2 separate regions of the Homo sapiens genome follow, and region 1 is linked to region 2. The links come from fine-mapping of genetic effects on gene expression. A gene starts in region 2. The other region holds a variant in brackets. All regions are shown on one strand. Distances are from middle to middle. Region 1 overlaps SLC44A3 (solute carrier family 44 member 3). Region 2 holds the start of SLC44A3 (solute carrier family 44 member 3).

Region 1 (2,910 bases), 20 kb after region 2:
CCTAGGAGAAGAGGTGGCAGAACTAAGACTCAAACCCAGATCTGTGTGGTCCCAAAACCCACCTTACTAAACATAACTCTGATCTAGATGCAATCCTGATTTCCTATGTCGAAAATAGTACATACAGCTTATTTCATGGTTAGGATCTTAAATTCTTCATTTTAAAGACATTATTAATCTTTCATATTTAATAAGAGTACCTTAGAACATGTAAAGTTAGAACTTTACATAAGCCCAGTATGAAGTCAAAAGATTTAAGTATGATAATTTTAGATGGTTCATTTGGACTTGTAAGAAAAAAAGATTTGGGCATTTGAGAATAATATTGCTATAAAATTTTTTTTCTTTCTTTCTTTTTTTTTATTGAGACAGAGTCTTGCTCTGTTGCCCAGGCTGGAGTACAGTGCCATGATCTTGGCTCACTGCCAACCTCTGCCACCCGGGTTCAAGCGATTCTTGTACCTCAGCCTCCCGAGTAGCTGGGATTACAGGTGCCCGCCACCATGCCTGGCTAATTTTTGTATTTTTAGTAGAGATGGGGTTTTGCCAGGTTGGCCAGGCTGTTCTCGAACTCCTGACCTCAGGTGATCCACCCGCCTCGGCCTCCCAAAGTGCTGGGATTATAGGTGTGAGGCACCATGCCCGGCCAAATTTTTTTTATTTTTGAGAAGAATACTAGGACTTTCAGAGACAGGCTTACCACACTTGATTGAATGGTGCATCAGAGACTGCCCCACGTATACCTTGTTATTTTTATTTAGTGTTTAGTAGATATCCCAAGATATTTAGAGATTGAATACAATCCTCAGCCGTCACTGTTCTGGAGGGTTTTGTCATCGCAGTACTACCATCATCTCCCCTATCCTTTGTTGCTATTGAGGTTTATGTGTTTTGCTTAATTTTTCAGCCTTGTCTTTGGCCATGATGTTTACCTTCAGATTCATCACCACCCTTCTGGTTCACATTTTCATTTCATTGGTTATTTTGGGATTGTTGTGTAAGTATTTCTCTACTTGACTGATTTCTTTTCGATTAAATGAAAAGCCTTTACATTAAGTACAGAACTTAAAAGTTGGCATTTTTAAGCTACATGGAGTCTTAAAGAGTATCTAGCCCTGTCACTTTACAAATGAGAAAACTTGGCCTCAGGGAGGACGATGGGAGTTGCTATGTCTCACAGACAGTGCAAAGTTAATGACCAATCTTTTTTTTCTTCTTTCTTTTCTTTTCTTTTTCTTTTTCCTTTTTTTTTTTTTTTTTTTTTTTTGAGGCAGGCTCTCACTTTGTTGCCCAGGCTGGAGTGCAATGGCGCGAACGCAGCTCACTATAGCCTCAACCTCCTGGGCTCAAGCGATCCCCCTGTCTCAGCCCCCCAGGTAGCTGGAATTACAGGCACATGCCACTACACCCAGCTAATTTTTGTATTTTTTGTAGAGACGGGGTTTTGCCATGTTGCCCAG[T/G]CTGGTCTCCAACTCCTGAGCTCAAGCGATCCGCCCACCTTGGCCTCCCAAAGTGCTGGGATTACAGGTATGAGTCACCACGTCCAGCCATATCTGTAGTTTCTTCTGCTGTGCTATGCTGCCCCTGAGATGAGCTTTCCAATACCGTGATCCTGTATCCATAACGTTAAAAGAGAATCCCAGTACCCACTGGGAGCATTTTAAAGGATTTCTTCTGAATGCGCACCTCACCCATTGGCACGTGGGTGCCCACAGTTGTCATGTAAAGGTTCTGACCAGCCAGAAGACACACAGGCCTGCATGGAAGCAGAGTCCTGGAGACCCTGTACTGTGCCCATATTTCCCTCCCGGTTGCTGGATTGTGGATCTCACCAGCAGTTGTTGGGAAAGAGGTCCGAGGGACAAGGGCACGCAGGAGGCTCAAGGCAGCAGCCATTTACCAACTGGTGTGGGGTACAATCAGGTGTCACTTAATGACAGGAAGGGATGTGTTCTGAGAAATGCATCACTCAGCAATTTCCTCATTGTGTGAACATCACAGGGTGCACTTACACAAACCTAGATGGTAGAGCCTACTACACACCCAGGCACATGGTATAACCTATTACTCCTAGGCTACGAACCTGCACAGCATGCTACTGTACAGAATACGGTTGGCAGCTGTAACAGAATGGTCAGTATTTGTGTATCTAAACACATCTAAGCACAGAAAAGTACAGTATTATTAATCTCATGAACCACCATCATATATGCAGTCCATTGTTGATCAAAATGTCATCATGCAGTGGATGACTATATTTTAATTTTTAAAAACTGATGTGATTGTCATGTTTCTTTCCCCTGAGTCATCAGCTCTGCCCTCAGCAACTTAGAGCCCTGTAGCCCTGTGTCGGAGGACAGGCACAATGACTTCTGAGGGTTGTTTCTTCCTGTCCACTCCAACCTTCCTATAGTTACTGTGGATATGGCATAAGGTGGTATTTCGTACCTAAATGTGGAGTACTTGCAATGTCAGGGCATCTTCCAAATGAGCTTCTGACTTCCATGATTCCCACAGGCCGTGTAAATTTTCCTGGTTTTGTGGGTGAGCAGCCAATATCCAGGCTCCACAGGAGTTATCACCACCAGAGCTTGCTTAAAACATTTAGACAGTGAGCTCTGGCATTGTCCCTCTCACCATCCTGTCCATGGGGTTTTCCTCCTGCTCGCATCCAGACCCAACCTGTGGGTTAGGTGCCTGTGTTCTGGGGTCACCATCCTGGGTCTCCCAAAACAAGCATCATCCCAGAACTTGTGGGTCCTCTATGGGTTGCCCTGGCTCTGCCCAGCTTCTCCAGAGGGCAGCAGTTGCTTGTAGGGTCCGGGTATTTGGGACCCACTGCCAGAGCAGTGCCACGCGGCCGGTGGGCAGTGGCTGGACTTCCTGTGTGATTCTGTGTGCTGGGGAAAG
Region 2 (2,910 bases):
GAAGGTTTTTTTCTACCTTGAAATTTATCTCCATTATATCTTCAAATATTTCCCCTTCTCTGTTTTTATATTTCTTCCTTTCTGTTCTAGTTTTACCCTAGATATAAGCTAGAAAATTTACAAATAAGCTAACTTGTTTTTTAAAACATTTTCTACTGCCTCTGGAGGTTTGCTGAAAGTGCTCTTCCAATTACTAATTCATCGTCAGCTGCATCTTTTAGACTATTGCACATTACTAATACGTAGCATCAATATTCATTCTAATTATTATTTTTATGCTTAATATGTTTTAGTTTCATATTTTTTCCTGATTCATATTGCTAATATCATAACTCATTTTAAATAAATTTATCATGCTTATTTAAAAATCTTGGTCCATCTGCTCTACTGATCAGTTTCAGATGGCATATGTTATTCAGTTGTGGTCTTTTAACAGTAGTTGCACTCCTCCAGTGTCTAATTCTTTGTCCTATGAATTCATGTTCCCCTGGGGTTTCACCTACTCTGTCTGATAAACATGCATCCAGGAAGGCCCAGTGAGTTTGCAGTGGGAGGGTGGTGTGAGCCCAGAAGGAAATCGCTGGCACCAGAGAACCACTGTCTATCATTCCCAGTTTCTCCCACTTACCCAGATCTTTCCTCCAGTCAGGTTTCTACCCTTAGGGAGAAGCAGCACCTAAAGGAAGCAATTAACCTAGCAACCCTAAGGGTGGCAGGGGGAAGGGTAGAGGCTTGATTGAGAGGAGGTGGGGGGAGGTCGGCCTGCAGTTTTTTTTGTTTTTCGTTTTTTAAATTCCTCACCCCAACAGTGCTTTTGCGCTGGTCTGACACTACCTGGAAAACTATGCCACCAGTCGCTTCAGTGGACACTACCATTTCAATTGCGAAGTCAGGCAATGATTGTCCTAAGGCAAGGTGGGAGAGAAGTCAGAGTAAACCACCTCGAGAGCGCCGGTCTCCCGGAGTGTCTGGGTTCGACTCCTGCCTCCACAACTTACTGGGTCTCCTCGAACAAGTTGCATCACCAATGGCCGTGCCTCAGTTTCCCTCCTCCGTAGATTAGGAATAACAATAGCAGTGAGAACAGAATCCAGCACACAGTAAATGCTGCTTACCTGTTTGCTATGTGGAATACGCCACTACACTGTTGCTCGGCCCTCAGGAAGGGTCTGCTGAGACTTTCTACTTCCTGCTCAGGGCAGAGGCCGACCACCCGCCCAAGGTCGTGGCGGCGCCGGCTCAGCTTTAGTCGTCAAAGTGCACATCCTGGGAGCCGCTGCCTCGAGGTGGTTGAGGCGAGAGGGCAGGGAAGCGTCTGAGCCTCTTCCTCCCACCAGAGCAGGACCCCAGCTGACAGCGGGTGAGCTGGGCAGAAACCCATGCCGGGAAGAGGCGGACCCAGTGGACCGCAGCGCCCGCAGTCGCCGGGCCAGGCGCAGAGGCGAACGGGAGGCGGCGCTGCACCGTGCCCGCCCCTCCCCGGCCCGGCCCCGGCTCCAGCCCCAGCCCCAGCCCCAGCCCCGGCCCCGGCCCCGGCTCGCGGGCGCTGCGTCTCCGCGTACAGGAGGCGGCGGCGGCTCCCAGTCACCGGCCCCCGCCGGCGAGCGCACGATGCACTGCCTGGGCGCCGAGTACCTGGTAAGCGCTCGCAGCCTCGGCCCTCGGGGGAGGAGCCCCGGGGAAGGGTCGAGTCCCCCGCCTTCACGCACCTTCCCTGCCGGACGCTTCCGCCTTTCCCGCGCCTCGGGGATCCCGCCCCCGCTTAGTACCTTGGGGCCACCTGGCGGGGAGGAACCTGGACCCTGCTCCAGTGCTGGGGCGGAGGCGGGGGAGACGCGGGCCGCGGGGCGCAAACTTGGGGTCGTCCTCAGGTGCACCTCCAGGTAAGCACTTGGCGGCAGGGGGCTTAACATCCGCTCCGCGCAGAGCAGGTGTTTCAAAGGCTGTGTGAAAGAGCTTCAGGTGGCCACGTAAAAAAATAATATTAATTTTAAAAATTTAGAAAAAGATTGGTTACTTTGGCCCCTCTTCGAGTAGATTTGGGTTCGGTTTCCAGGTTGAGTCCACCTGTTTATCTTCTTTTTCTCAACTCTCCCTTTTTCTGGAAGGTTTCTGCAGAAGGAGCCCCTAGGCAAAGGGAGTGGCGACCCCAGATTTATAGGAAATGCACAGATACGGCATGGTTATTCCTGTTCTTTCTCTTTTGGACTGGTTTGGTAAGTGTGGGTGCTTGGTAGGAAAGAGGCCAGAGTGTGTGTGCACGTCTGGAAATAACTCTGTCCCAAATGTAAATCGTAGTTGGTGCTGCAGTGAGAGACTTCTGCCGTTAACCCACAATAAACATCAGTTTGTACTCGGGAGAATTCTTGTCCTAGACTCGCTAGAAAGGCTGTCTTTTTGCTACAGGCCATGTTCTAAGGGGTGACTCCATTAGGAAATGGGAATTAACAGTTTGCAATGTGATTGCTATTTAGTAAGGCCAATGTGTCTCCTTTTACTCTCCGAACTTACTGAACAGAAGTTCTTTTAGCACCTGCCACACCCCCAAATCAAATATTCCTCAAGCTTTTGGTGCACCTTTAACAAAGGAAAAGCCAGGGTAAGCCTAGAAATAAACTGCATTTCCTTTAGCTGAACATCACACACACACGCGCGCGAGAGATATGTTGTGTTTAGCAGCCAACACTGTTAACCATAGCTAACAAGGAATGATTTTTCCCACTCTAATTTCGAGGTATGTATGATTGCTGGTAAACTCCATCAGGCTATGCGGTTATAATCCTGAGAGAGTCTGTTGGAAGCCGAATCTTGCTGCTTTTATACTTATTTTAGAATTGTAGGTAACAGCAGAAAACGTCTCACCCGACATTTTCAAAGGCCACTTTCACGAAATCATCCATGCCAGGATAA

Evidence for each region.
Region 1: its variant is fine-mapped to the expression of SLC44A3 in lung (TOPMed, PIP above 0.99). The same link has a PIP of 0.9 or more in amygdala.

The regions. Positions count from the first base shown.
Region 1 is chr1:94,839,041-94,841,950 of GRCh38, forward strand. It overlaps SLC44A3 (solute carrier family 44 member 3), which reads left to right. Exons shown (of 15, transcript NM_001114106.3): 7 at 908-997. Among named protein-coding and RNA genes, the nearest start is that of SLC44A3, 20 kb to the left of the region's middle. The variant T/G (reference allele first, on the strand shown) is at 1,461.
Region 2 is chr1:94,818,841-94,821,750 of GRCh38, forward strand. It overlaps SLC44A3 (solute carrier family 44 member 3), which reads left to right and starts at 1,517. Exons shown (of 15, transcript NM_001114106.3): 1 at 1,517-1,638; 2 at 2,109-2,216. The coding sequence starts at 1,612. SLC44A3-AS1 (SLC44A3 antisense RNA 1) reads right to left here and starts at 1,392. Exons shown (of 6, transcript NR_160780.1): 1 at 1,116-1,392. RefSeq lists a silencer at 1,521-1,710.